Regions from separate parts of the Homo sapiens genome. Here regions 2, 3, 4, 5 and 6 are each reported to be linked to region 1. Evidence: microRNA targets listed by miRTarBase, many of them from high-throughput screens and not tested one by one. Region 1 holds a microRNA gene; each other region holds the end of a gene's coding sequence.

Region 1 (5,075 bases):
GTGAGACAGCACAAGCTGGGGTTGGGGATGCTGTCACAGCTCACATGAAACTGTCTCCCACAGTTGCAGCTCCAGTCAGAGCAGGGTAGATGGGATGGTCATAGTCACCAGAAGTGAGCAGCTGGCTTTGGAGCTGGACTACCTGGGATCAGGTCCCTAGCTCCATCACTGATTAGCCATGAGATTTTGGGCACATAAACATTACTTTTCTTGTCAGTGTAACAGGGGTAATAATAGTGCTTACCTTATGGAGTGTTGTGATCAGTAAAGATTAGCTATGGTTATCCAACAATGCTCTCCTTGTTTAAACTGTGTGCAAATCTCCCTTTTATCTTTTAAGGTGGGCAAGACTTCTCGGTGTTTCTGTATTTCTCTTCTGTGCCAGCACATGCTCAATGAAGTACCCCTTCCCTTTCCAGTTGCATACTTTAGGGTTTTGCAGCTTAGCTGCCCTTCTGAGGACTCCCCCACATGGTTTCCCTCCTCCTTTTTCATCTCTCTGCTTCTCCACCTCCCTACCCTGTTTGTCCTCAGGGTACAGAGGGGCTGCAGAGTTCAAGCCCTCAGTGTGCCCTCCTGCTGCTGCTGACAACAACCCTGTGGGGCTGGGATCACATTGTACTTCCTTGAAAAACTCACTGCACCCCGCCCTACTTTCTTGCAAGTGCTGATGTAAACATTTCTCTGCCAGAATCTGATAACATTCTAACACTGCCAGTACATAGATTAATGTCAACACTTTTGGTGATGCTCTAAATACAGATAAGCTAAAGTGGTTCAGCTAATGTCAGCATTCAAGGGCCTAAACTTCCCAAACTGACTACAGCTGCTCTAGAGCTTACTTACTACTGCTAGGAAAAAGCGTCATACCTCCCAGCAAACATAGATATTTTTCTTTTTCAGATAGTAAGATACAGGTTGAGTTGAGTATCCCTTATCTGAAATGCTTGAAACCAGAAGTGTTGCAGATTTCAATATTTTTCAGATTTTGGAATATTTGCATTACATTTAGTTGTTCAGCATCCCTAAGTCAAAAAATCTAAAATTGGAAATGCTCCAATGAGCGTCTCTTTTGAGCATCATGTTGGTACTTAAAAAGTTTTGGATTTTAGAGCATTTCAGATTTCAGCTTTCCAGAGTAGGGATACTCAACCTGTAATAATTTTAACCTTGGCTGACAGAATGCTCGGAGCTAAATTGTATGTTCCAACCTAAGAGTTATACTTCACTGATGTTTTCTGATATATCCATCTTTTCCCCTGGATAATTAACTCTTATTTTATTATCCTAATATATAGGTATTTTGTTGTAAGCCATGTGAAATCCTTATAGAAGTAAGCAGTGCGTGAGTAGAAAATGATGCGTGAATTATTAGAGGTGTCATTGCCCCATGAAAATATACAACCTATGTTGGTTATATAGTCGTTCCTGAACACAACATCTTTCAAGGCCAGGATTTCTAAAACTCATTACATGAGTAGTTGGTAGTTTCCATTCTCTTTTGTTTAATATTTCAGAGGATATGTAGTATTTTAGTGAGGAGGTTTTGGGTGCAGGGTACTAAAAACCTAATCCAATGCACAGGTTTGAACATTAGATGGGATTCACTAAGTTTTTGCGACACAAATGCTTGGTGGGCTCCAGGTGTGGTTTGATCAGGGTTCTGGTTCTGTCTTAACTTCTCTTAGTTTCTCTTGCCCTGTGTGGGCTTTGTCTTCAGGCTGGCTTTCCTCGGCAGGGCAGGCCTGCCAGTTGTCTCTGATGAAGACATACTCTCTCTGCAGGAGTTCATCCCTGAACAAAATACCACAGCAAGGGGAGTGGGGGATGCCCTGATTGGGCTAGACTGGTCAGGCCCGGGCTGATGCTGGGATGCACGGGGGAGTCAACCCCACACAAAACCCAGGTGCTTCACAGTGGGGGTGGGGTGGGGTGGCAGACAGGAAGGGAGGTTTATTCTCACTCCATTGACAAGGCTGATGAAAAGAACCACTAGGAGAAGAGCTACTATAAAACTCTGCACATATAATTATTAGGGATGAACAATGCCAGGTTGTGCTTGATGGGCCTTCTAAGTCCTTTTGGAGCCCTCTCACTTTCTGGTAAGCCTTTAGACAAAATCTGCTTTGCGATGCCTCTAGAATGGGGCAGGTGGAAAGCTTCCTGCAATTACATTCCTTTTATATAATGTTTCTCCACCAGAGGTTTGCAGTTTTATAGGATTCACCTGCCAATTGGCAACTGATTTGAGACACGTTAGTGCATCAGCAGAAGTGGGGGACATGCCGAGGGAGCAGCCTGGTGCTTGGCGGAATGTATCCTCTAATCACTTTTCGCCAGAAAGACCCTTAAAGCAATTATACGCTTCTGCAAAGAGAACTGGAAAAGGGTTCTGGATACTTTCTCCTCTTAATTAACCAAAGAATATGCCAATTCTTTTTAGAAAGTAAACTTTTTTCCCTAGTAACTATATTGTCCCATATCTGGTTATAATTTGTGTCTGAAGTAAGTAATTAATAGAGGACTGCCAGAATTTATGAGAATAAGAAACCCCATGAGTTCACGCGTGCACACACACACACTCAGAGGACATTGATATAGTTTGGATACTTGTGCCCTACAAATCTCACGTTGGAATGGCAACCCCAATGTTGGAGGTGGGCCTAGTGGGAGGTGTTTGCATCACAGGGGTGGATCCCTCTTGAGTGGCCTGGTGCCATCCTTGCAGTAATGAGGGAGTTCTTGCTCTACCAATTCGCCCAAGATCTGGTTATTTAAAAGAGCCTGAGACTTCCTTCTCTCTCTTGCTCCCTCTCTCACTACGTGATATACTGGCTCCCCTTCACCTGCTGCCATGATTGGAAGCTTCTGAGGCCCTATGCTTCCTGTATAGGCTGCAGAAGCATGAGCCAAATAAACCCCTGTTCTTTATAAATTACCCAGTTTCAGGTATTCCTTTATTGCAAAGTAAACAGTCTAAGAAAACTGCTGTTTTCTTTACTTGTAATGTGCTTTTCACTGCCTAGCTAAAAGGAGACAATGGCCTCTGTAAAGCACCTTGTCATGGACAAGTGATGCTGGCATATCATTATAATTGTGACCTATGAAATCTTTGCCTATTCTCAGGTTTCAAATATTTTTCTCCTGACAGTTCTATATAGTATACCCTGCTTATCTGCTGGGGACATATTCCAAGACCCCCCAGTGGATACCTGAAACCATGGATACTAAAGAACTGTATATATACTGTGTTGTTTTCCTATATGTATTATTATAAAGTTTAATTTATAAATTATATTATATTATATATAATATTATATTATTATAAAGTTTAATTTATAAATTAGGCACAGGAAGAGATTACAGCAAATTATAATAAAACAGACAATTATAATGATATGCCAGCACCACTATTCTTGCACACTGGGGCCATTACGAACTAAAATAAGGGTTACTTGAACATCAGCACTGTGATGTCACGGCAGTTGATCTGATAACCCAGATGGCTACTAAATGACCCATAGGCAGGTAGCATCTACAGTGTAGATCCACGAGACAAAGGGATGATTCACATCCTAGGAGGGACGGGACAGATGGCCTGAGATTTCATCATGCTACTCAGAACAGCACACAATTTAAAACGTATGAGTTGGCCAGGTGCAGTGGCTCACACCAGTAATCCCAGCACTTTGGGAGGCTGATGTGAGTAGACCACTTGAGCCCGGGAGTTCAAGACCAGCCTGGGCAACATGGCGAACTCCTATCTTTACAAAAAATACAAAAATTAACCAGGCGTGGTGGTGCATGTCTATAGTCCCAGATACTCAGGGGGCTGAGGTTGGAGGATTGCTTGAGCCTGAGAGACCAAGGCTGCAGTGAGCCAAGACTGCGCCATTGCACTCCAGCCTGGGTGACAGAGTGAGATTCTGTCTCAAAAAAATTTTTTTAAAAAGGGATGAATTATTTATTTCTAAAATTTCTCTTTTAGTTTTTTGGATGTGAGTGGATGATGAGCCACATGTCCCTTTGGTTGGCTGAGGGTAACTGAAACCATGGAAAGCAAAACTGTGGTTAAAGGGGGACTACTATAATTTTAGCTGTATTATGTTTAGGTCTATCATCCATATTGAATTAATTTTGTGCATGAGTTGAGATAGGAATTGAGATTCATTTTCTTCCCCATATGGATATCTATTTTTCCAGCATCATTTCTAGAAAAGCGCTTACTTTTCCCATTGGAGCTTCGGTGGCTTTGTCAGTCATTAAGTAACCTTATAGGTGTGAGTCTAGGTCTAGGCTGCCTGTTGTGTTTTATTCATGTATTTGCATAAACTTGCTTTGTGTACATTAGCTTGGCTACTGGAGCCTCAAACTCAGGTTGTGGAAGTCCTCATATTCTGTCTTGTCAGTATTAATTTAGAGATCCTAGGACCTTAGTATTTCCATATAAATGTCAGAATCAATATGTCAGTTTCTCTGAAAACTTGACCTAATTATCAGTCAGATTGCATTGAATCTATAGATCAATCTGAGGAGACTGTATATTATAAAAGCATTGGGTTTTTCAACTTATGAACATGAAATGCCTCTCCATGTATTTAGGTCTTCTAAATTCATAGTTTTCTGCATAGAGTTATTAAATACCTTTTGTTAACCTTATTTCTAAGTATTTAATGTTCTAGATATCATTATAAATAAAATTGGTTTTTAAACTTTTTTTTTGCTGGTAGTAAATCGAAATATAATTGATTTTTTCAGATTGATCTTGTATTCTGTGACCTTGCTATTTTTACATAAATTCCTCAGGATTCTCTTTGCAAACAATGATGTCATTTATACACAAAGGGAGTTTTACTTCTTAATTTTCAATCTTTATGCCTATTATTTCATTTTGTTTTATTTTACTGCCTAGGACCTCCAGTACAATGTTGAACAGAAGTGGTGACAGTAAACATTTTTAGCTTGTTCTTGATAATAAAAGAGGACAATATTTCACCATTATCATAAATGGCAGTTGAACTTAGGGAAATAATGTTTCTGCTTATGAAATGATTACATATTTGTCTTCTCTTTCG
Region 2 (5,075 bases), not on the chromosome of region 1:
TTGTCTAAGACCCCCTAGTCAACATACAATAACAAGCAGTTTCTAACCAGGGTGTAAGGTATTTGATACCTAAAGCATTCTCATGACTACAATGAGTAACCAAACTCCACAGCTTGAGAAATTGTTAGACAGAACCCGCAGATCCCTTTCTTTGAGAACATGAGCCTGTGAAATTATCTATCTTTGATCTAATTTGGCTTTCTCCTCCCTTCCGAGTTCACTGAACATCACACAAAAATGATTGCCTGGCCACTACAATGCTAAATCTGGGGCACTAGGAAACTGTTCTAGGGACGCTGAATAGAAGAGCTCCCAGGGTACCTTCTATTGTTCACTGCAGAGCAGCCACCTTGATGAATTGTTTTAAGATATCGTTTCACTAAACCTCCAGCAGTTTTCTCCACAAAAAGACAGATAATAGGTACTTTGAACATTATCAAAATTAAAAAACAGAATTTGATTTAAGTTAAAGATCAACGTATCTGCAAAAGTTAAACTTGCCCCTCATTTCAGCCTTCAGAAAGAAGGGAGGCAAGAAGAGACCCAGGGAATAGTTTCCAATGAGGGTTAGGACAGCATTACTGCAGCAGACAGGAGACAGTTTAGAGAACAAAGGCTTTCAAATAAGAAAAGCAGATTCTTTCATTCAAGTTACATGACCTCCTGGCACCTCCTCTTACCGGTAAATAGATTTTTTTTTACTTTGCAGGGTTACTTAAACAATGTTTAAAAGTGTCTGGCCCAACAGTAGGTCTTTTCTTTTTTTTCTTTGGAGGTGGAGTCTTACTCTGTCACCCAGACTGGAGTGCAGTGGCCCAACTCAGCTCACTGCAACCTCTACCTCCCAGGTTCAAGCAATTCTCCTGCCTCAATCTCTCGAGTGGCTGGGACCACAGGCGCATGCCACCATGCCTGGCTAATTTTTTTATTTTTAGTAGAGACGGTGTTTCACCATGTTGGCCTGGTTGGACTTGAACTCCTGACCTCAAGGGATCCACCCGCCTGGGCCTCCCAAAGTGCTGGGATTACAGGTTTATATAAGCCACAGTGCCCAGCCAGGGTTTTTCATATTGTGAGAGCCATTTTTCTTTTTACTTGCTACACAAAGCATTTGCATTGTAGGGCGAGACGACCAATTTAAAGAGATTCAGTTAAAAAAAAAAAAAGCTGTGACAAACTCTAGGTGCCTTCCCATTAGCCCCACCCGCACCTCTTGGTATCCAATCCTTCGTATGAGCCTCTCCCCTTGGATATGGGCAGGACCTGAAAAGACCCCTCTTGCTGGCAGCTTGGCTCTCGACACTTGCTGGTAGTGACAGTAATCATGTCAGTGGTCCAGTCAGCAGCCAGGCCATGCAGGGAGCACCCAGCTGGCAAGGAACTAAGCGGGGGCCTCCAGCTGACAACCAGTGAGAGGTCTGGACACTCAGTCCTGCAGTGGCAAGAACTGAATTCTGCCAGCCGAGTGAGGCTGAAATGAGTTCTTCCCAAATCACCAGGTGAGAATGCAGATGAGACCATGAGCTTTCTAAAGGACCTATCTAAACCATGCTCAGACAGAAACTGAGACGCATTTGTTTTAAGCCACTAAATCTATGGTAATTTAGGACATAGCAATAGATAATACTGGTACTATCAACTTCCTTAGTTACCTTGTTAATTTCATAGTAACTGTATTAGGTGGCATCCAGACTATCCCAAATTTAAATACTAACAGTAGTATAAAAAGTCTGGCCCTTTATTACCTTTCCCAGGTAATAAAACAACTGGTTTCTAAAAGTTTGATATGGATTACACCTCTTAGGATTCCTCATAATCCTGTGAAGTAGATATTCCCATTAATTATTTAACTCAAATGACTAACAAGGGGCAGAGCTAGGAACTTGAGAACCAGCATCCAACCCCTGATGCCACCACCCTTCCAACTTTTATAGTTTCCCTAAAGTCTCAATGATGCTTCCCACTATGCCCATAGATAGTAATAAAACCACAGACAGTAAAAAGTACTGGGAACATTTTGTTCTTCCTTTTAAATCCATCTTATCCACTAGATTAATAATTGTGCACATCAGTTAAAATGTCTTTTATTCCAAAGTCTATGTCTCAGTGAAGAGGAATTTATTCCCTTCATGGCTTGTTATTAATACTAAGCACTTAAACTGAGTATATGTGAAAGCCAAAAACATTATTCTTACTGAAGACCTGTCAAACAAAGCCACAAAACAGCTCCTTTTATTTTCTAGTAAGACTAGATTTATTCAATACCCTAGTAAAAGTTTTGATTATAAGTATCCAACAGTATAAAAAGTACAAAACAGATCTGTAGATTTCTAATATATTAATACAAAGTGCATGACTACATACAGTACATCCTACAGGCAAAGAGAGGTGGAAGGGGAAAAAGAAGACTGTGGTTGAGGTCTAGTAATAAATAAATAAATACAGAAGTAGAGATGATCCATATTATAGTATATTCTACCACCAATACTGCAGCCAAAATGTACAAAAAAAATCATTTCAAATAACTCAGGAGGATGATAATGGCTGGACTTTTGTAATTCACCTCAAAGACTGTGGGAGAGCCAACTCAACTCACTGTATAGTCTGTGCATATGGTGGCTTGTAGCATGTAGGTTTTTTCCAAAAGAAGGAAATATAAAATGTTTAGATTAAGAACTATAAAACTACAGGGTGCCTATAAAAGGTGGCTTACTCCTTATTGTTATTATACTATCCAATTTTTAAAATGCAGTTTAAAAAATAAGCACTGAGTCTTGTTATTACAAGGCAGGCAAATGTTTCTCCCTCATTTTGAAAAGACTGAACTGGCAATGCTTTTCCTGAACATTTAGAAAAGAGGCAGTAAGAGTACTCTGGTTTGGGTTCAAGTGAGAGGCTTTTCATGAAAATCTTAGGATTGAAGAGCTCTAAGTTCAGGATATCTCAATGTTCAGAAAGCCTGACTAAAAGAAGCCAAACCAAAACCATTTAATGTGAACACAAACCTCTTTTCTTTTAGTAAGTTTTACTTTTAATACAGAGTGAAAGAAAATAAAAATTTAATAGGCTAAAACAAGTCAAACACCCATTCTACACAGATAAAAACCTTCACAAAGGTCAACTGAAGTAATCCAGAGCTGAAACTGAATTGTGCAGATTTTCAATGAAGTCACAGAAGTCATGTAACACAAACAAAAGTCGATTATATTTACACACTCAGCAAGCCCTCTAAGAAATGTGCCCCAAGAAGCATTAACCTTTGTTTTGTGCCATCCTGAAGACTTGCACATTTTATTTTTCAGATAGCTTAACATTTTTAATCGAGTGTGTTCTCTACCATGCGGTAATGCTTTGGTACTATTCATACAGGGTCTTGCCTATCCTAAAGACTTGCCATTTCCCCAAGAGGAGCTTTGATTCTGCTTTAGAAGTTTTACATAAATTAAAATCTTTATCAAATATTAATATGAAGGGAGGCACAGGATGCAACATATATAGTCAAGTTACCTCTCTGTATATTTAGAAATTACTTTCTCCTCCAAGGTATTTGCAACAGAAAGCTCAGTCTGTCCTGCTTAATAATCAGTAGTACAGGTGTGAATCATCAGAAGCTTGGCAAGACCTTAATATTTCAAAATTATTAACAACTACCTCTAGGGGCAAGTTCATGTTACTGAGTTATGACAAATTTATTATCATGAGGGAAAACAAGAGTAGCCAGCCATCTTAAAAATGCCCCAACCACTGCTTCTCAAAACAGAAAGACTAAAAACTACATACAGTTTATCATACAACAAATCCCATCTCTGTCCCCTGAAATTCCCCTAGTTTCATTCATTAGAAGGGGATTAAAAAAAAAAAAGACTTAAAGAGCACTTTACAGCAGCATTCAGCTTTCCTATGAAATACTCAGCATCTTAAATATTATATACAACTCTTTTTTTAGTAAGCTAGACACTGGCTTCAGAGTTTGTGGGAGTGGGGGAAATCAACCCATTCAAAACTACTCTAGAAATTGTCTTTTGGCAGAATAGCAGGTATCCAAGTTAAAAATAAGAGGGTCATTTAAGACCAGCCTGGCCAACGTGGTGAAACCCCGTCTCTACTAAAACTAAAAAATTAGCCGGGTCTGGTGGCGGGCACCTATAAACCCAGCTACTTGGGAGGCTGAGGCAGGAGAATCACTTGAACCCGGGAGACGGAAGTTGCAGTGAGCCAAGATCACGCCACTGCACTCCAGCCTGGGTAACAAGAGCAAAACTCCGTCTCAAAAAAAAAAGAGGGTCAGTTTGTAGCTTTGTGGTTTTTCAAAATTCAGATATTTTTTTTTTTGTTCCCCTTCTACATAAAAACCTCAGTCACCACTCCTGAGTGGAGATGGGCAGAGGCTCTGGCCCCTGCTCCTCTGGCTTCTCAGCAGCTGCTTTCTTATTGCTGCAGCAAGGCTTGAAGAGATGTGTGTCAATGAGGACTTCCCCAAAACGGCCTTTATAGATGATCCCACAACATATCTTCTGTCTAAAAGAAAAAATGGAGAACAAGATACATTAATAAGGAAGAAAAATAGGAATACAAAAGAAATCTACTCACTATTATAACTAGTCCAATATAACCAAAGAGTTGTGCTTCTACAATCTTGCACATTCCAAGTGAAAGGGCTCCTAGAGTAACCCCAATTAGCTAGAGAAGGGGAATTACCCAGTTGCCTTAAAGGCCACACTGGAATCTTCTCAAATATTGAGGAAGACGGCATTTTGAAAGACAGCAGTCAGTTTCAAAGGCTGCCCCTGATGTTGTTAACTATTTCCTCCAAAATCACCAACTCTTGAAAAAAAAATCAGCCACCATAAACAGGCTGATGCAGCTAGCAATTTTTTATATATATTTAATTTTTTTTCTTTATCAACTCCTAAGTGCTTGAGTGGTAATTTTTAATTAAATACTGAGTAGATAAAAATACATGTGTGGGCCGGGTGTGGTGGCTTACACCTGTAATCCCAGCAGTTTGGGAGGCTGAGGTGGGCAGATAACTTGAGGTCAGGAGTTCGAGATCAGCCTGGCCAACATGGCGAAAC
Region 3 (5,075 bases), not on the chromosome of region 1:
AAAACAGCCTAGCGCCACCCCTTCCCCTGCCATTCTCTCCCTTCCTCTCTCACCATGTGATTTCTGCACATGCAGGCTCCCCTTTGTCTTCTGCCATGAGGGGAAGTAGCCTGAGGCCCTCATCAGTTGCAGATGCTGGGTTTCATGCTTCCTGTACAGCCTGCAGAATCATGAGCCAAATAAACCTCTTTTCTTCATAAATTACCCAGGCTTATGTATCCCTTTATAGCAACACAAATGGACTAAGACAGTACCCTCCCTATGGGGCAGTGTCCAGAGAGAAAAGGCCAGAAGACCAAAGACTGAACCTTGAGTCCTGGGAACAGGATCCAGGAGAAGGGGCAGTCAGAGGTGGGATGCAGCCCAGATGTGGTCATGGTGATCAAGGACGCAGTAGTGAAGGTGGTCAGTGCTGTCCACAGGCATGGTACTTGGCTGTGATCTCCCCAGCCCCACTGAAGCCTATTACAGATGGCTGCAAATTCTTTGACACCTCTCCCACTGAGATGGGGTGGGGGAATCTTTGCTTCCTCCATGTAAATCGGAGTAGGTTCTGTGACTAATGCCCCCCATAGAATAGAATGGAAGTTTAGCTGGGCATGGTAGTGCATGGCTGTAGTCCCAGCTACTCGGGAGGCTGAAGTGGGAGGATCGCTTTAAGCCCAGGAGTTCTCCAGCTGGGGCAAGAGAGTGAGAACCTGTCTCAAAAAAAAAAAAAAAAAAAAAAAAAGGAATAGAATGGAAGTAATGTCATGCCAGTGTCCAGTTCCAGCCTCTGAGAGACTGGCTGTTCTGACCTTTAGAATCTGGGAGCACTCAGTTGTGGAACCCAGCCACCATGTTGTGAAGAAGCCCTGTGCAGTGGTCCAAGTGACCAGGAGTCAAAGCTCCCAGCCAATAGCCAGCACTAACTTGTCAGCAGTGTCATGGAGCCCACTTGAAAGAGGATTCTAATTATGCTGCCCAAGCTGTGGCCACATGGAGGAGAGATATACAGTCCCTGCTGAACCCTGCTCTAATTACAGGTTTGTGAGCAAAACTACTAATTGTTAACTAAATTTTGGGGTGGCTCATTACACAGCAACATCTGGTTTTCTCGGTGGATTCAATCCAATGTGCTTGGGTCTCCCCTCCTAGTGCATGGCAGATGGTGGGGGCCATGGGAACTTCCCTCTCTCACTGCTCTCCCTTAACTTTTGTTCTGGTGGCTGGTGACCTCCACGGGGCTTAGAGATCAACTGTGGTCAGTGATTAGGGTGGCCCTGGGCCTCTATGGGGGTTAGGTATTGGGAAAGGTCACAAAGGGTGGGGCCCATGTAGCCCCCACAAGAACAGAACAGAACAGAACAAGCCCTGGCCTCTCAGCTACCCATTGGCATAGCTTCCATTCCTTCCACTTGCATACAGGGAGACTTGAAAACCAGTGGTGGCGAGACTCCAAGACTATTATTTTTATTTCCGGACAAAAACATCTGCTTCACACAGTGCACGGCATCAAATGAAGAGGAAAGAACTTGTATCCCAAAGCCTGGCTTTCTGTATCATCCACAAATTAAGACAGCATCTGCTGAGCCCATGCTGAGCCTGTCACAGTCAACAACTGGGAAACCGGGGCCTCTACTGAACCAGGGGACAAGTAGCCGAAGCACTTAAACAGCTTGATACTTGTTTTTTGGTACATTTGTTTATTTAAAGCACAGGAAATGAATAAAATGCCACCTAAAAAGTATCTGCAATGAATAAATTATTTCCAGTGAAGCACTGCAGATCCACACACACCAGTCTGCTAACCTTTACCAAGGCCATGTCCGGTGGGCTTGTGCTTGTTCCAGTTGACTCTTCCTTGAGACCTTTCCCTTCTGTGCAATGACCACAGCATTAGAGACCAGTCCTGCATGCGCTGGCCTTCCTCGTAGGCATGGCAGACCACGTGGATGAGCAGTGGGCTGGCATGCAGTAGGCTTCAACAAATGGCACTTCACTGTTTCCAGTGACCCTGAAATGTTTTACGTAAGTGGGGCCTGGGCTTTAAAGAAAAGAGCCAGGGTTCCTCAGGCTGGGCCCCTTCACTGAGGCACAGCTCCAGGAAATACTGGTCTCAGGAGCCAGCAACTTGTCCAGGAGTTTTGAGCCCTCAGTTGAAGGAAAATGGCCACGTGGTGTCCTTGCAGGCAACAGTGATGTCGGTGATGGTGACAAGTAGCCAGCCTAAGGAAGGCCAATCCCACCTTGGGTGGAATGCAGGGCACCTAGTCCTGCTTGGAAGGGGCTGGGAGGTTGGGGAATGTCGAGAATGGAGGGCTAGGGCTCCACACAGTGAATTCAAATAAGGGCTCTTCAGTGAGGGAAGGAAGCCGCAGCCCTCCTTTGGCCCTTTATGCAGGGTCAGCATCTCGGCTCACAAGGCCAAGGGTCACTGGGCAGGAACCAGACTTTCAGAAGGGAAAGGTGCCATAGGCAACGCCAAGGGCATGACTTAAATATCCTATCCTCTGGAAAGTGTTCAAGAGGTCTTGCAGTACACGCCATTTAGGAGACTATAAAATTCCTTTCATTTATGCCATGTGAACAAGTTGAGGCGGTGCATTTCCAAGGTGAATTCATTGAATACAATGAAGTACATTTATTTTTTGAAGGAAGTTTTTGCCGCAGAAATATTGAACTTGGGACTGTGCTGACAAGCTATAACATAATCCCTCTCCTTCCAGATCAGAGCAGGGGTGAGGAAGCAAAAGTCCACAGTTACTGGGCAGGTAATTGGTATAAATGAGGGTGTGGGGCTGGATGCGGTGGCTCACATCTGTAATCCCAGCACTTTGGGAGGCCGAGGCAGGAGGATTGCTTGAGCCCAGGAGGTTGAGACCAGCCTGGGCAACATGGTGAAACCCTGTCTCTACAAAAAATACAAAATTAGCTGGGCATGGTGGTTTGTGCCAGTGATCCCAGCTATTTGGGAGGCTGAGGTGGGAGAATTGCTTGAGCCCAGGAGGCAGAGGTTGCAGTGAGCCGAGATTGCGCCACTGCACTCCAGCCTAGGCAACAGAATGAGATCCTGTCTCACATTAAAAAAAAAAAGAAAAAGAAAAAGAAAAAAAAGAAAAAGGGTAATGTGAGCACACATTGGTCTCATGGTCTACTCACCTGATTAGAGATTAATCCCAGTCTTTCTTTTTCATTACAATAAATGCAACCTGCAGGGGCATTGATCAGTAGAAACAAACACTCAGCCTCATTGTGGGAAGTGATAGGGCGTAGTGTGGGCTGTGGTGACCTGGTGAAGTGGACACCCCTTCTAAAGGCAGAGCTGGTGCCCAGCTCCAGCCAGTTGTTGCTAGGTGAGAATGTGAGCCCCAGCATGGCCAGATCTTCTGATCTGGGTTTTTTTTTAAGTGTTAGAGTCCGCAAGCTAAACAAAACATCCCTGTGCGCCAGATCATTTTGTAGCCTCTCCTGTGGGAGTCAGTGGCAGGAAGGTGTGGTAGGCAGAATAACAGCACCCCAAAGATGTTCTGGTCCTAATCCCCACCTGTGGCTATGTTGTCTTGCATGGCAAAAGGCTCTTCCAGGATGATGAAGGAACTTTAGATGGAGAGATTATCCTGGATCTTCCTGGTGGGCTTTGTAAGTCAAAGAGGGAAGTGGGAGGGCCAGTGTCACAGTGATGCCATGTGAGAAAAGCTTGACCAGCCACTGGAGCCTGGGAATGCAGCCAGCCTCTAGAAGCTTGAAATGGCAAGGAACCGGCTTCTCCCTAGAGCCTTCAGAAGGAGCACAGCTCTGCTGACACCTTGATTTTCATTCAGGGACATCCATTTTGGAATTCTGATCCCCAGGACTATAAGCTAATGTGTTGTTTTTAAGCTACCAAGTAATAGGTTGCAGTGGCAACAGAAAACTAATGCAGGGGGCCACTGTTTGGTATATATTTAAACATTTTTAGAGGATGAGAATATTCTCTAAATTTCTCTTTAAATGTCAAAGTATTGCTGCAGCTAGGAGAACCGCACATGGAAACTTGAGGAAATTTCTCTTATTGCTAGGACTATAGGACAATGGGATTCAAGATGAATTTCCACAATGGGATAACCACGAACCGACCTAGAGAATCAGGAAGTCTCTTATCAAAGCAGATATGTGTCAATGCTGCTCAAACACACACATTCTTTTCTGGTTGGACAGATTGTAAATTATTCCCACCACCTGGGGGACAGGCACACGTTTATCTAGCGGTCAGTAGAAGTCACAACCCAGGCATCCAAACCAGTTAGTATGAGTTATTACTAAGTCAGGTGAAAAGAGCTAGGTGGTTATACATTTGATCTCTTAAATAACACAGGACCACCAAATAAATAATAATAAAAAGGCACATTGTCGTTTTCATCCTGGGGACCCCAGTGAGAGTAGGGACCTCAGGTAGGCTCCTTGGAATTGGAACTGTTGTCCTGAAGAGGGCAAGCCTCTGTTTAACACTCTGAATCCAGGGCTTGCTGCAACCCTATGCTAGGTGACTCAGGCCTCTCTCCTCTCATTACAGGCTGGCTAACCGCACAGCCTAAGTTGAGGAGCACATGAGCTGTCATGACTGTATCCAGATTGGAATTCATCATTTTCAATGTCTTGCCCTTAGAATGAGTCCACTGAGCAATGTGAAGTTGGCGGTGTCCAGGAAAACCTCCTGCTGTTCCTTCTGTATAATTCCTCTTCTTTAGGATTTCTGGTTAGGAACACGGACGGGTGTCTCAGTGCCCTGCTTTATGAAACTCAGCAAAGCGTCTGGAATGGATCAAGTTATTCTGCTGGCTCCATGGGCTCCTGAGTGTTCAGTAAGGGAATGTCTGTGTCCTTGCTGCTTACATCCCCATTGTTGGGATGGGAGAAGGTGTACGGTTCACTCTCAGACTCAGGAGGGGAGCGAGGAGGTGGCTCCTCAGTGGCCAACTTTGCAGTTGGGGCCCTGGAGCATATGGTGGGTGGGGAGGGAGGACAGACCCCCATGGTGCCCTGGAACGGCCGGTAGGTGTCCACCTCTGGCTGCAGGAAGGAGCCGCTGGAATCCTGTAGCAGATGCCCATATA
Region 4 (5,075 bases), not on the chromosome of region 1:
GATTGTTTTGAAATTTTGAATAATCTATTATCTCTTAAATTGTAGAAGTGGAGGAGATCCAGATAATTTCACTTTATTGACAGCTTGTGTTTATTTCATTCAAAGGGGAAAACAGTCTTTTTTTAAAAGCACTCTCTTTTGTGTTTTAGTAAGTAAAGAACAGTCCAAAATTGGCAAAAAGGAGCCTGGTGACACAGTGCACAAAGAAGAAAAGCGGTCAAAACCTAACACAAAGAAACGCGGTTTAACAGGTGACAGTAAGAAAGCAACAAAAGAAAGTGGCCTGATATCAACCAAGAAGAGGAAAATGGTAGAAATGTTGGAAAAGAAGAGGAAAAAGAAGAAAATAAAAACAATGCAGTGAATCACAGATGTCTCCTGAAAGAACTCTTTTAGATGAAATCATTCTACTCAAATGTACCTTAATTTTTTTTTTTTCCCTGAGTAAAAGCAAGAAATTTCTTCCTTTGGAAAAAATATATATATTAAAAAACCACTTTTAGATGGTTTTTTTTAAAAAAAAAAAAAAAACTGGTAAAATTACTTTTGGCAGACAGTGTTTTATGAATTATGTATCATGTTGATATATAATATGTTAATGTGTCATGTAATTTTTACTTTGTACAAAGCAAATAAAGATCTTTCTCAAAATATACTGTAAAATAATATAAAATATTGAACACATTCTTTATCAGATTTGGATGAAGGAGTCATTATTCAAAATTTTCTCTTAAATGGGAAAGAATTTAAGAACTGCCTTTGGCTTCTTCAAATGGTAAGTAGTAATTTTAGATTTTCATACCAACCAGACAAACTTAAAAGATTATACATATATAATTATACATATCTATGAAACAAACATATGCTTAAGTGTAGGACCACGTACCTAAGATTATAGAGAGATTGCCAGACTTTAAACTACTTTGCTTCCAAGTAGTAGATGTACAAAATAATTTAAGGACGGGAAAATGATCTTTTCTTTTTTTCTTTTTTTTTTGAGACGGAGTCTTGCTCTGTTGCCCAGGCTGGAGTGCAGTGGCGCGATCTTAGCTCACTGCAACCTCCGTCTCCTGGGTTCAGGCTATTCTCCTGCCTCAGCCTCCCGAGTAGCTGGTAGCTTGAGCCAAGGAGTTTGAGACCAGCATGGGCAACATAGGGAGACTGTCTCTCCCAAAAAATTAGCTAGATGTGGTGACATGCTCCCAGCTACTCAAGAGGCGGAGGTGGGAAGGATGGCTTGAGCCCAGGATGTGGAAGTTACGGTGAGCTGCGACTGCACCACTATACTCCAGCCTGGACAACAGAGCCAGACCCTGTCTTAAAAAAAAGAAAGAAAGAAAAAGACATTATTGGGGATCCATAGGTTTGAATTAGCCAGGCAGATACTAGATACCTGAGACCATCAGGAGAATCACTTCTGATTAGGCAGAATAAGAACGGGCACTGGAATTGCCACTCCATAGGAATAAATTGTCTAGGAAATGAACCAAATTGTGTGCTTAATATCAGTCTACTCCTTTGTTAGCTTATTTCATAAGCTATTAGCATAAATGTAGGTCGTTGGCTTTTTTTTTTCTCAATTCAACTCAAAAATTTTGAGATCATTGTGAGAAATATACACTTGTAAGAAATAATACAGAGATTCCACCCGGTTTTCCCAATGATAACATCTTGCAAAACAAGGGCAATATCACAACCAAGCCAAGATAGGATAGAAATGATATAATCAAGATACAGAACATTTCTATCACAATGATCCCATCTGTTGTCATAAGCCATATTCAGTTTCCTCTTGTGCTCGTATAGCTATGCCCACCTTCATAACCTCTGGCACCAGCGGTCTGTTCTCCATCTCTAATTTTGCCAAAATTGATTGGATTATACTTTCTTTTGGGATTGGCTTTTCACTCAGCATAATCTCTGGGCATTGATCCAGCTTGTTGCATCAATAGTTCTGTTTTTAGTACTGAGTGGGATGTCAGTATAGATGTACCATAGTAAACACCTGTGGAAGGACGTCAGGAATGTTTCCTGTTATTAGGTATCTAAATAAAGTTGCTGTAAACATTTGTGTACAGGTTTTTATGTGAACTAGAGTCTTCATTTCTCTTGGATAAATGCCCAGGAATTCCAAAGTTTTCCAGAATAGCTGTATGGTTTTACATTTCTACCAGTAATGTTTGAGTGATACAGTTTCTCTGCATCTTTCCAGCATTTGATGTTAGTCTTAGCCATTCTGGTAAGAGTGTAGTGATACCTTATTGCGGTTATAACTTACATTACTCTGATAGCTAATGATGTTAATCATCTTTCCATGTGCTTATTTGCCATCTGTGTATCATAATTGGTGAAAAGTCTTTTGCCCATGTTCACATTATATATTTTTTCTTTTTTGCTGTTGAATTTTGAGAGTTTTTTGTTTTTGTTTTTTTTTGAAACGGAGTCTTACTCTGTCACCCACCCAGGCTGGAGTGCAGTGGCGTGATCTCGGCTCACTGCAACCTCCACCTCCCAGGTTCAAGCGATTCTCCTGCCCCAGCCTCTTGAGTAACTGGGATTACAGGTGCGTGCCACCATACCCAGCTAATTTTTGTATTTTTAGTAGAGGTGGGGTTTTACCATGTTAGCCAGCCTGGTCTCGAACTCCTGATCTTTAGTGATCCACCCGCCTCGGCCTCCCAAAGTACAGGGATTACAGGCGTGAGCCACCGCACCTGGCCAAGAGTTCTTTTATATATTGTAGAAACTCAGCCTTTCTCAGATAATGTGGTTTGCAAATATTTTTGCCTAGTCTGTAGCTTGTGTTTTTGTCCTAACAGCCTTTTGCAGAGCTCAAGTTTTTTATTTTGTTGAAATCCAGTTCATCAATTTTTCCTTCCATGGATCATGCTTTTGGTGTGAAGTCCAAGACCTTTGTCTAGCCTTAGATCCTGAAGAGGTTCTATATATTTTTTAAAGGTTTTGTAGAGTTTTACATTTTACATTTAGTATGTGATCCATTTTGAGTGTATAAAGTGTGAGGTTTAATTCCAAGTTTATTTTCTTGCCTATGGATATCGACTTGCTCTAGCGCCTTGTTGAAAAGACTGTTCTTCCTCTATTGAAATACTTTTGCATCTTTGCCAGAATTCAATTGAGCATATTAGTGTGGGTCTATTACTGGGCTCTCTATTGTGTTCTATTGATCTCTGTTGATATTTTTGCTGGAACCACATGGTCTTGATTACTGCAGCTATATAATAAGCCTTGAATTTGAGTAGAATGATTCTCCCCCTTTTCTGTTTTTCAAAATTATTTTCACTATTCTAGTTCCTTTGCCTTTCCATATAGAATTTAGGATAATTCTATCCTTCTCTACAAAAAAAAAATGTACAGTCATGTCAATAATGACAGGAATACATTCTGAGAAATTCCTCATTAGGTGATTTCATTTTGTGTGAATATCACAGGGTGTACTTACACAAACCTGGATGGTAGAGCCTGCTGCACACCAAGGCCATACGGTATAGTCATAATCTTATGGGACCACCATTGTATATGTGATCCGTTATTGACCAAACCATTATTGACCAAAATGTCATTACGCAGCACATGGCTGTATAGATCTTTGATTTTTTTATTATTTTATTTTTATTTTTTTAGACAGTTTTGCTCTTGTCACCCAGGCTGGAGTGCAATTTTGCGACCTCAGCTCACTGCAACTACTGCCTCCTGGATTCACGCAATTCTCCTGCCTCAGCCTCCCGAGTAGCTGGGATTACAGGCACACACCACCACGCCCGGCTAATTTTTTTATTTATAGAAGAGACAGGGTTTCGCCATGTTGGCCAGGCTGGTCTCAAACTCCTGACCTCAGGTGATCCGCCCGCCTTGGCCTCCCAAAGTGCTGGGATTACAGGCCTTAGCTACTGCGCCCAGCCAGATCTTTGATTTCTTTTATCAGTGTTGTGTAGTTTTCAGCATACAAATCTTGCACGTGTTAGATTTATTTGTAAGTATTTGGGGTGGGGGAATTACAAGTAATTTTTTTTTTTTTTTTTTTTTTTTTTGAGATGGAGTCTTGCACTGGTGCCTGGGCTGGAGTGCAGTGACGCCATCTCGGCTGACCGCAACCTCTGCCTCCTTGGGTTCAAGCGATTCTCCTGCCTCAGCCTCCCAAGTAGCTGGGATTACAGGTGCCTGCCACCATGCCCGGCAAATTTTTTTGTACTTTTAGTAGAGATGGGGTTTCACTATATTGGCTAGGCTGGTCTCAAACTCCTGACCTCGTGATCTGCCCACTTTGGCCTCCCAAAGTGTTGGGATTACAGGCATGAGCCACTGCACCTGGCCTACAAGTGATATTTTTAATTTTGGTGCCCATATTCATTGCTAATACATAGAAATACAGTTTATTTTTGTGTGATCTTACATCCTGCTATCTTGCTGAATTCATTTATTCTAGGAGTTGTTTTGTTGGGGGTTTCTATGTAGACAATTATGTTATCTGCAAATATAAATAGTGTTATTTCTATCTGTATTTTTCCCCATTTTCTTGCCTTATTAACTGACTAGAAGATGCAGCACTGTGTTGAATAACAATAGTGAGAACAGACATCTTTGCCTTGTTATGATCTTAGGGGAAAAATATTCAGTCTTTCACTGTTAAGTATAATGCCAGCTGTAGGGTTTTCGTAGATATTCTTTGTCAAGTTGAAGAAAGGTCAACTTGACATCCCCTGTTTCATTCCTGATATTGGTAATTTGTGTCCTCTCTGTTTTCTTTGTCAGTCTTCCTAGAGCTTTGTCAGTTTTATTATCTTTTCAAAGAACCAGTTCTGCCAGGCACGGTGGCTCATGCCTGTAATCCCAGCACTTTGGGAGGCCGAGGTGGGCAGATCACCTAAGGTCAGACGTTCAAGACCAACCTGGAAAACCTGGTGAAATCCTGTCTCTACTAAAAATATAAAAATTAGCCGGGCATTGTGGCAGGCGCCTGTAATCCCAGCTACTAGGGGGGCTGAGCCAGGAGAATCGCTCAAACCCGAGAGGCGGAGGTTGCGGTGAGCCGAGACTGTGCCACTGCACTCCAGCCT
Region 5 (5,075 bases), not on the chromosome of region 1:
TTCTGTGACAGAGTCTCACTCTGTTGCCTAGGCTGGAGTGCAGTAGCGCAATCTTGGCTCACTGCAACCTCTGCCTCTCACGTTCAAGCGATTCCCGTCTCAGCCTCCCAAGTAGCTGGGAATACAGGTGTGCACCACCATGCCTGGCTCATTTTTTTGTATTTTTAGTAGAGATGGGGTCTCACCATATTGGTCAGACTGGTCTTGAACTCGTGGCCTCAGGTGATCCACCTGCCTCGGCCTCCCAAAGTATTGGGATTACAGGTGTGAGCCACCATGCCCAGCCATCTATTTTTTAATGGACTTCTGATAATCTTTTATTTAGGAATATTTATAAGTGATAATGGTTGTCTAAGAGGTAGTAGAGCATGGTGATTGACAGCATGGGCTTTGGAGTCAGACTACCTGGGTACAAATCCAGTTTCACCCCTATTAGTTGTGTAATCCATAATGTGTTTTTTTAGTTTCTTCTGTAAAATAATAGGTTGTTATGAGAACTAAATGAAATAATATATGTAAAACACTGAGGGAAGTACTAGGTTACTTAATAGGCTAATAGGCATTCAACCAAGATAGCTGTTATACTTAATGTAAGTTTATTTTTTACATTATTGGCTGTATAATAGACTACAAGAATAGAAAACAAACACTTGAAAATGAAAACAAGAACACCAACCTCGATTTTTTTTTTGAGATGGAGTCTTGCTCTGTGGCCCAGGCTGGAGTGCTGTGGTGCGATCCCGGCTCACTGCAAGCTCCGCCTCCCGGGTTCACGCCATTCTCCTGCCTCAGCCTCCCCAGTAGCTGGGACTACAGGCACCCACCACTGCGCCTGGCTAATTTTTTTTAGTAGAGACGGGGTTTCACCATGGTCTCGATCTCCTGACCTCGTGATCCGCCCACCTCGGCCTCCCAAAGTGCTGGGATTACAGGCGTGAGCCACCATGCCTGGCCCAACTTCTTGATTTTATGACAAGATAGAAACTACAACTAAAAACAGCTAGAAAATGATGAAAATGAAAAAACACATGGTTGACCAAGCTGACTTTAGAGGAAAGTTCATAGCCTTAAGCACTTCCATTAAAAGAATGAAAATATATGCAACACACATTCAATACTAGAGTTAACTTCTATTTTCTTTTTTTTTTTTTTTTTTGAGACGGAGTTTCACTCTTGTCGCCCAGGCTGGAGTGCAATGGCACGATCTTGGCTCACTGCAACCTCTGCCTCCTGGGTTCAAGTGATTCTCCTGCCTTAGCCTCCTGAGTAGCTGGAATTACAGGCACCCACCACCACACCTGGCTCATTTTTTTTGTATTTTTAGTAGAGATGGGGTTTCACCATGTTGGCCAGGCTGGTCTTGAATTCTTGACCTTGTGATCCGCCTGCCTTAGCCTCCCAAAGTGTTGGGATTATAGGCGTGAGCTACCGTCCCCAGCCTATTTTCTCTCTTTTTTGAAACGGAGTTTCTCTCTTGTTGCCCAGACTAGAGTGCAATTGCACGATCTCAGCTCACTGCAACCACAGCCTTTGGGGTTCAAGCTATTCTCCCGTCTCAGCCTCCCGAGTAGCTGGTATTACAGGCATGTGCCACCACGCCCGGCTAATTTTATAGTTTTAGTAGAGACGGGGTTTCTCCATGTTAGTCAGGCTGGTCTTGAACTCCCGACCTCAAGTGATCTGCCCGCCTCGGCCTCCCAAAGTACTGTGATTACAAGTGTGAGCCACTGCGCCAGGCCTGTTTTCTCTTTTTTAAGGTGGAAATCAATAAATTAGGGCCGGGCATGGTGGCTTATGCCTGTAATCCCAGCACTTTGGGAGGCCAAGGTGGGTGGATCACCTGAGGTCAGGAGTTCGAGACCAGCCTGGCCAACATGGTGAAACCCCATCTCTACTAAAAATACAAAAAAATGAGCCAGGCGTGGTGGTGGGCACCTGTAATCCCATATACTTGGGAAGCTGAGGCAGGAGAATCACTTGAACCCGCGAGGTGGAGGTTGCAGTGAGCCAATATCACGCCACCGTACACTCCAGCCTGGGCAACAGAGCGAGACTCCGTCTTAAAAAATGAAAGAAAGAAAGTAAAACAGGTATATAGAAGATACTGAGAATATTTTCTACAACTCTAGGCAAATGCATTTGAAAGAAAGCCTCAATGAAATAGATGTTCTCCTAGAAAAAGTACAAGTTATCAAAATTGATGAGAGGGTAAGGGAGAAACAGCTGGAGAAAAGTGCCAGAGAAATAGTCTTTAAAAAAAAAAAAAAGGCCGGGCGCGGTGGCTCACGCCTGTAATCCCAGCACTTTGGGAGGCCGAGGCGGGCGGATCACGAGGTCAGGAGATCGAGACCACGGTGAAACCCCGTCTCTACTAAAAATACAAAAAATTAGCCGGGCACAGTGGCGGGCGCCTGTAGTCCCAGCTACTCGGGAGGCTGAGGCAGGAGAATGGCGTGAACCCGGAAGGCGGAGCTTGCAGTGAGCGGAGATCGCGCCACAGCACTCCCGCCTGGGCGACAGAGCGAGACTCCGTCTCAAAAAAAAAAAAAAAAAAAAAAAAAATTCCAGGCCTAGATATATATACCACTTAATTCTTTCAAATCTTTGAATATCACATTTTCTTTGTTATTTAAACTTTTCTGGCTGGGCGTGGTGGCTTATGCCATAATCCCAGCACTTTGGGAGGCCCAGGTGGGCGTATTACCTGACGTCAGGAGTTCAAGACCAGCCTGGCTAACATGGTGAAACCCCATCTCTACTAAAAATACAAAAATTAGCCAGGCGTGGTGGCGTGCGCCTGTCATCCCAGCTACTTGGGAGGCTGAGGCAGGACAATCACTTGAACCTGGGAGGCGGAGGTTGCAGTGAGCCGAGATCATACCATTGCACTCCAGTCTGGGCAACAAGAGCAAAACTCCATCTCAAAACAAAAACAAAACTTTTTTGAAGTATAAAGAAATAGTCTTTTCTTTGCAGGTTACTTAAATATAGTTATATTTTCATAACATGGCTTAATAATTTATTGTGCCATCCAGCTGAGATGTATAAATCAAAACCACAGCAGTGATTTTAACGTTTAAACAGGACAGTCTACAAAAAAGGAAATACAAATGGCTCAAACAAATAAACAGATACCTAACTTCATTCTTGTTTGTTTTAAAGAGATAAGGTCTCACTCTGTTGCCTAGACTCTGGAGCATAGTGGTGCAATCATGGCTCACTGCAGCCTCAAATTTCTGGGCTTAAGCAATCCTCCTGCCTCAGCCTCCCAAGTAGCTGGGACTTCGGGTGTGCAGTACCACACTTCACTAATTTAAAAAAAAAAAAATTGTAGTGATGAGGTCTTACTATGTTGCCAACCTCATCTTGAACTCGTGGCCTCAAGCGATCTTCCTTCCTGTGTAGGCCCTCAAAGGGCTGAGATTATAGGTGTGAACCACCACGCCCAGTCCCCAACCTTATTCTTAAGTGAATATACAAAATTCTACTGAGATTAAAACGCCATTTTTAAAGTAAGAGATTAGGAAAGATCAAAACATTTGATAACACTTACAAAGATTTAATAGGCACTCTCATGCATTGTGGGTGGGACTGTAAACTGGCACAATCCTTATAGATGGCAACTTGCCAATATCTATCAAAAGTAAAAATGCACATATCTTAACCTAGTAATTCTAACTTTAGATTTCCAGCTTACAGTAAACTCACTCATGTGCAATGTGACCTATATAAAAGGTTATAAAATGAATCATTATTTATAATAGCAAAAGGTTAGGAAAAAAATGTCAGCAGGGACTGCTCAAATATATTATGGTACATTCATACAATAACATCTGCAATTATAGACCAAGAATCAAGAAACTCTTCATGTAACGACATGGGACAATCTCAAAAATATGTTACACAGAGAAGACAAGCTGAAGAACAGTATACACCGTACAATACCACTTAGGAAAAATACCTCTAGAGGGATATTTAAGGAAAAGATAACACTTTTTGGGAAGAGAAAATGAGTTCTAAAGGAGGGAAGGAGACTTCACTGTTTATCGTTCTGTGTCTTTTGAATTTTGAACAATTTTGAAATGAAAACATCCCAATGGAAATACAAGTCTTTTAGGTAAGTTCAAATGAGCATGTATTATATTTCTTTCATCTGACTGATAAACTTTTCCACAATTTCATTGAGTCTTTCAGGCTCCATTAGTTTATTTACCAACTCCTGCTCAACAGCCATTAGGGCTGGGCCAGTAAGCTTCTCTTGTCCCATGGTATTACATAAATATGTCTTAAGACGAGGCAGGGTAGAAAATGAGTTCTCAGTACTTGCTGAAGTAATTGGCCAAGACAAAGCAATATATAATAGCTTTGAGAGACAAGGAATATTACTGTGAAGACCATGCTGAATAAACAAACAGCCGAGACTGACGAAGTTTATGCAACTATCATCTATGACAAAGTTAAGCTTTGCATAATGTCGATAAAATCTAAGTTCTGGGATAATGTCCTCATCAAGTTTATAAAATTCCTGAACATGTTTTGCTGTTGTTTCATTTAATGGTTCATTCCATTTAAATAACAGTTCTGAAATTTGCTTTATTTTGCAATAATCAAACTCCGAAAAACATAACTTTAAATTTTGTAATATAGTATCTAATCCTTGGTAATAGATATTAATTTTATATTGTTCTTCTGTTGAAGTAGGAAAAAACATATTATCTGAATTGCCAAGATCTACTGATTTCTGAATTTTTCTTCTTTTCTGAAGAGAAGGTTTTTCAACTTTAAAACCTTTACAGGTTATTTTTTGACATATTTCCTCTGTTCCATCCCAGATTGTTTTAAAGTATACGTCATTTCTTTCAGATGATAAACATTCCAAAATTGCTTCTATTTTTGAAGACAAAGAAAAAATGTCTATGGTTTTATTTTGAAGCTCTTTGGAAAGAATTCCTGTAACACTCAGCACTCGATACAGGAATTTCAAACAAAAGACAAATTCAAATTTGGAAACCAATGTCAGCAAATGACTCAATTCATCGGCGAAACTTGTATTTGAAGAATGGCTTGCTATAACT
Region 6 (5,075 bases), not on the chromosome of region 1:
CCTTTGTAAGGCTCTGTTTGTAAAACTTTCATGTTCTATCATGTAATTTTTTGGGGGTAAATGTATACGTAGATGAAACGTGGAGGCAGTTAAGCCAGTTGTTGATGGTGGGTGACTGTAAGTGATGGAAAGGTGGTTGACCCCCTTTATTTTCTGCGTACTTTTCAGTATTCTGAACAGTGACACGAGTCTTTTTTTTTTTTTTTTGAGATGGTGTTTTGCTTTTGTTGCCTAGGCTGGAGTGCGGTGGCGTGATCTTGGCTCACTGCAACCTCCACCTCCAGGGTTCAAGTGATTCTCCTGCCTCAGCCTCCCAAGTAGCTGGGATAACAGGTGCCCACCACCAAGCCCAGCCAATTTTTTGTATTTTTAGTAGAGATGGGGTTTCACTATGTTGGCCAAGCTGGTCTCGAACTCCCAACCTCAAGTGATCCACCCGCCTCGGCCTCCCAAAGTGTTGGGATGACAGGCGTGAGCCGCCGTGCCCGGCCACAAGTCAAGTTTTAAAAAGTAAGAGGAGCCAGGCTGCTTGCATCAGGCTCTGCTCAACAAACCTGGCCAGTAGGTGCGGCCGTGTGTCCGTGATAGCACTTAGGGGAATTTGTGAAGAGCTGTGACTGCAATACACTGCTATGACCTGTTGCCTGTGGCACTGTGACCACAGAAAATGATGTCTCTAACCTTACTTTGCAGAATAGAAAAGAAACGCACCATCATTCCTACACTGGTGGAAGCAATTAAGGAACAAGATGGAAGAGAAGTGGACTGGGAGTATTTTTATGGCCTGCTTTTTACCTCAGAGAACCTAAAACTAGTGCACATTGTCTGCCATAAGAAAACCACCCACAAGCTCAACTGTGACCCAAGCAGAATCTACAAACCCCAGACAAGGTTGAAGCGGAAGCAGCCTGTGCGGAAACGCCAGTGACACGTACACACCACGTCCTGGTCTTTGTTTGAGGCCTGACGTGGGCATCATTTTAACAGGTGCCTTTTTTGTTTTTTTGTTTTTCGTTTTTTTGGTCACTCCAGTAGCTCCTGGAAAAAACCTTAAAAAATGTTTCCTCCAAATCTGATTTCATTACATTTCTGAATTGTTGGGGTTTTTTTTGTTGTTTTGTTTTGTTTTGTAGATGGAGTTTCACTTTTGTTGCCCAGGCTGGAGTGTAGTGGCGCGATCTCGGCTCAGCCTCCCGAGTAGCTGGGATTACAGGCATGTGCCACCACGCCCGGCTAATGTTTGTATTTTTAGTAGAGACGGGGTTTCACCATGTTGGTCAGGCTGGTCTCAAACTCCTGACCTCAGGTGATCCGCCCACCTCAGCCTCCCAAAGTGCTGGGATGACAGGTGTGAGCCACTGCGCCCAGCCTGAATCATTTCTTATACCTTCTGACAGCCCAACTTCCAGAGGACAGCTCTGGGGTACTCGTTGGATGTCTGTGAGTACCTGGTCATACGGGTCAGTAGGGATAAGAATTGTCTCTGGGCTGAGGAATTCTTCTGTTCTCTGGTTTCACCAGCGTTGGGTTTGCTCATGTAATGTGGTCACCATACTCAAATGGTGTCATGGCTGAAGTTGGCCACCTTGCTTGAGGGACAAGTTGTTTATGTATCAGCTCTCTGCTGGGTCTCCCTTTCCATGGCAAATGGGCAGCTCCATCCTCTTGACTCTTCTAAATGCCCAAAAGAGGTGTCATGCTTTGGGGGTACGATGTTTATACTCCGTAAAGAACATACAAGGACATTCACTGCTGATTTTTTTTTTTGTTTGTTTGAGACAGGGTCTCACTCTGTCGCTCAGGCTGGAGTGCAGTGATGCAATCTTGGCTCACTGCAACCTCCGCCTCTCAGGTTCAAGTGGTTCTCCTTCCTCAGCCTCCCAAGTAGCTGGGATTACAGGCACCTACCACCAGGGCCAGCTAATTTTTGTATGTTTAGTAGAAACGGGGTTTCACCATGTTGGCCAGGCTGTTCTCGAACTCCTGACCTCAGGTGATCTGCCCGCCTCGGTCTCCCAAAGTGCTGGGATTACAGGCATGAGCCACTGCACCTGACCTGCTGAATTGTTTATAATGGCAAGAAATAGGAAACCCCCCAATGTCTGTTGAACAGCTATCACGTTGAACCACGTGAAACTGCTGTTTTCTAGGCCAAAAATGGTGAGCGATCATTTATTTCATGATTCAACCTGATACATTTACATAGTGCAAAACTGTGTCACAGTTTCAGGCTTTTATGAGGAAAGCGTTTCTGTGTAGAAACTGGAAGCTGTTCAGGGCATCGGCAGCTGAACCCTGCTCCGTTGGTCAGCGTTACTATCATCTCGGATCATATGGAGCTCATGTCAGCCGTGTGGGTGGCGGGTGCACAGAGACGGTCTGGAAGGAAACACGCGGATCTGAACAGCAGTAATCCTGGGGGATACGGGGGTTGGGCTAGATTACAGAGGGCTCATTTTCTACGTCATGTATTTTATGATACTTGAATTTTTTGAAATGGGCATTTATTTTATAACATGTTAAAATGTACTTTTTAAATTAAGTCATTTTGTAATATTTGAATTTTTACATTTGTTGTACAATCAGGAAAAGCAATAAAGATTTTTCAAAAATAGACATGTCAAGAAAGTTTGCACTCATTGAGGATGCTGAAAATAAGGATAAAAATAAGGAGTCTGTGATATTTTACAAATTGACTTCATTTACAAATTGAGTCATTTTACAAATTGACTTCAATTTTACAAATTGACTACATTTTCTTCACAGAGCTAAAGCAATACCTTAGAATTAACCCAGTCCTGTGTGGGGAATTTCTAGAAGTCCCATCTATGGTACGGTGATGTTTATCTGCTCTGATCAGGGAAGGACAAACAGTGGGAGAGTCAGGGCCTGGGAACCGGGGGGCCTGGTCCCTCTTCTCAGATCCCTCTTGCAGGGTCTGAAGAACTCTCTGGAGCCAGCAGATCCCACCTGTGCAGCAAGGAGCCTGGCCCGGACAGCTGTGAGGCCCTTCCAGCTCCATCGCTCCAGCCTCAGGAGACGAGCTGCTCTGTTTAACAGCCACAGACGTGGGCCTTTTTCAGAGACACATTCTTTTGTTGTCTGTCTGTTTTTTAAGACAGGGTCTTGTTCTGTCATCCAGGCTGGAGTGCAGTGGTGTGATCTCAGCTCACCGCAGCCTTGAACTCCTGGGTTTAAGTGATTCTCCTGCCTCAGCCTCTGCAGTAACTGAGACCCCGGGCATGTGCCACCATGCCTAGCTAATTTATTTTTATGTTTGTAGAGATGGTCTCACTATGTTGTCCAGGTTGGTCTCAAACTCCTGGGCTCAGGCGATCCACCCACCCTGGCCTCCTGAAGTGCTGGGATTACAGGCGTGAGCCCCTGCACCCGGCGCAAGACACATTCTTGAGGGAAGTCCTTCCTTCTCAGCGGTCCAGGCATGCTGTGCCACCTTGCCCTGGACACACAGGGCGGCTATCCCTCTACCACGTGGCTCCACGGTGCTGCCCCACTGCCTACGACTAGGCCTAGAAGGTTTTGTGTCCCTCAGGCTTTCTGCGCCATCCTGCTGCCGTTGGGCCTTGTCCGTGCCCCTCCTCACCCTTCCTGACTTGAGGCTTCATTTCTGCAGGAGTTGAGACACCGGAAACCCAGGCTTGTTGAGCTGTGTGTGAAGCGTGCAAGGCTCTCCTGGCTGTGACATGGTGTTTTGGTTGTTTTTTTCTTGCTTCCGGGCCCTTGGCTGGGCAAGGTGCTGGTGATTGTTACAAAGAGCTATCACCTATCAGGAGTTATGTCACCCAGAGTCTCAGGTTAGAAAAGGTGGCTGAACCTCTGCAACAAAGAAAGAGTGTGTGGTCTGTGCATTCTCACACAAGAGGGAGAAAAGTTCTAGGAGCTAAGAGTGTGGAATTCTGTGATCTGTGGGGCTGAGGGTCACCTGCTGGGAGGTCCTGGCATCAGTAAGAAGCTTCCAAGGGAAGAGCCCAGTAAAGGCCTGCAGACGGCCTCAACCAGCTCAGTGCCAGGCTCCATCCAGACGGCAAAGCTGCAGCAAACACGACCACAAGACATGGCCCTCCTGCAGCTCAGGAGGAAGCGCTGTAGGCAGAGCCACAGTCGGCCTGCGCCAGGGGGTGTGCGTGAGCACAAATACACTCTTTTGTATCTTATCTTTTATTCCCTCATTCGCCCCCCTTTGGTCAGTCCCCCTAGGTCTGTGCAGGCTACAGTCCACATGTAGACTAGGAAGTGTTTCTACCTGGCAGTGCTTGTTAGTGCAGGTTAACCACTGTGAGTGAATAGGGGTGGCCCCAGGAACACACACACTTTCCACTCTGCGTGCTGCGTCTCCTCTGCAGGTGTATCATCATTTGGGACAGTGCACCTCACTGAAGTCTGCTTAGAGGATGGCAAAATTCTCGTCACCACCAGGATAGGTGCTGTCATTTAAAAAAAAAATTTTTTTTTAATTTTTTGAGACGGAGTCTCGCTCTGTCACCCAGGCTGGAGTGCAGTGGCGTGATCTTGGCTCACTACAAGCTCCGCCTCCTGGGTTCACGCCATTCTCCTGCCTCAGCCTCCCGAGTAGCTGGGACTACAGGCACCTGCCACCACGCCCGGTTAATTTTTTTTTTTGTGTTTTTAGTAGAGAGGGGGTTTCACCAGGTTAGCCAGGATGGTCTCGATCTCCTGACCTCATGATCCGCCCGCCTCAGCCTCCCAAAGTGCTGGCATTACAGGCGTGAGCCACCGCGCCCGGCCAGGTGCTGTTATTAATAGTTATTCATGCAGCAATCTGAAGTTGTACTTTATTTATTTATTTATTTTAGAGGCAGAGTCTCGCTCTGTTGCCCAGGCTGGAGTGCAATGGCGTGATCCCAGCTCACTGCAACCTCGGCTTCCTGGGTTCAAGTGATTCCCCTGCCTTAGCCTCCCAGGTAGCTGGGATTATAGGCGCCCACCACCACGCCCGGCTAATTTTTGTATTTTTAGTGGAGACGGGGTTTCACTATGTTGGCCAGGCTGTTCTCGAACTCCTGACCTCAGGTGATCTGCCTGCCTCAGCCTCT

The links. The annotated mature microRNA hsa-miR-3929 reads GAGGCUGAUGUGAGUAGACCACU and lies in region 1 at 3,694-3,716, shown strand. An mRNA with a match to its seed (bases 2 to 7 or 8) in the 3' UTR can be bound and repressed. Matches are read on the target gene's strand: a 7mer-m8 pairs with bases 2 to 8, a 7mer-A1 pairs with bases 2 to 7 and ends in A, and an 8mer does both.
Region 2: miRTarBase lists SINHCAF as a target of hsa-miR-3929. Seed matches in the 3' UTR shown: 7mer-m8 at 4,165-4,171.
Region 3: miRTarBase lists CDCP1 as a target of hsa-miR-3929. Seed matches in the 3' UTR shown: 7mer-m8 at 2,956-2,962.
Region 4: the mRNA of PAK1IP1 is a reported target of hsa-miR-3929. The part of its 3' UTR that is shown has no 7-base or 8-base seed match.
Region 5: miRTarBase lists ZMYM1 as a target of hsa-miR-3929. The part of its 3' UTR that is shown has no 7-base or 8-base seed match.
Region 6: the mRNA of DFFB is a reported target of hsa-miR-3929. Seed matches in the 3' UTR shown: 7mer-m8 at 1,186-1,192, 7mer-m8 at 1,321-1,327 and 7mer-m8 at 1,873-1,879.

What each region holds. Positions count from the first base shown.
Region 1 is chr18:35,932,729-35,937,803 of GRCh38, reverse strand. MIR3929 (microRNA 3929) reads left to right here and starts at 3,662; the gene lies at 3,662-3,716.
Region 2 is chr12:31,278,354-31,283,428 of GRCh38, forward strand. It overlaps SINHCAF (SIN3-HDAC complex associated factor), which reads right to left. Exons shown (of 6, transcript NM_001135812.2): 6 at 2,231-4,518. The coding sequence ends at 4,359. Among named protein-coding and RNA genes, the nearest start is that of FLJ13224, 43 kb to the right of the region's middle. RefSeq lists a silencer at 602-896.
Region 3 is chr3:45,080,850-45,085,924 of GRCh38, forward strand. CDCP1 (CUB domain containing protein 1) reads right to left here. Exons shown (of 9, transcript NM_022842.5): 9 at 1,428-5,075. The coding sequence ends at 4,789. LOC124906233 (a long non-coding RNA gene) reads left to right here. Exons shown (of 3, transcript XR_007095898.1): 2 at 804-1,025; 3 at 1,408-1,726. Among named protein-coding and RNA genes, the nearest start is that of CLEC3B, 57 kb to the left of the region's middle.
Region 4 is chr6:10,709,089-10,714,163 of GRCh38, forward strand. PAK1IP1 (PAK1 interacting protein 1) reads left to right here. Exons shown (of 10, transcript NM_017906.3): 10 at 150-694. The coding sequence ends at 364. Among named protein-coding and RNA genes, the nearest start is that of TMEM14C, 11 kb to the right of the region's middle.
Region 5 is chr1:35,114,323-35,119,397 of GRCh38, reverse strand. It overlaps ZMYM1 (zinc finger MYM-type containing 1), which reads right to left. Exons shown (of 10, transcript NM_024772.5): 10 at 3,539-5,075. The coding sequence ends at 4,139. Among named protein-coding and RNA genes, the nearest start is that of ZMYM1, 37 kb to the right of the region's middle.
Region 6 is chr1:3,882,814-3,887,888 of GRCh38, forward strand. It overlaps DFFB (DNA fragmentation factor subunit beta), which reads left to right. Exons shown (of 7, transcript NM_004402.4): 7 at 694-2,616. The coding sequence ends at 928. Among named protein-coding and RNA genes, the nearest start is that of C1orf174, 15 kb to the right of the region's middle.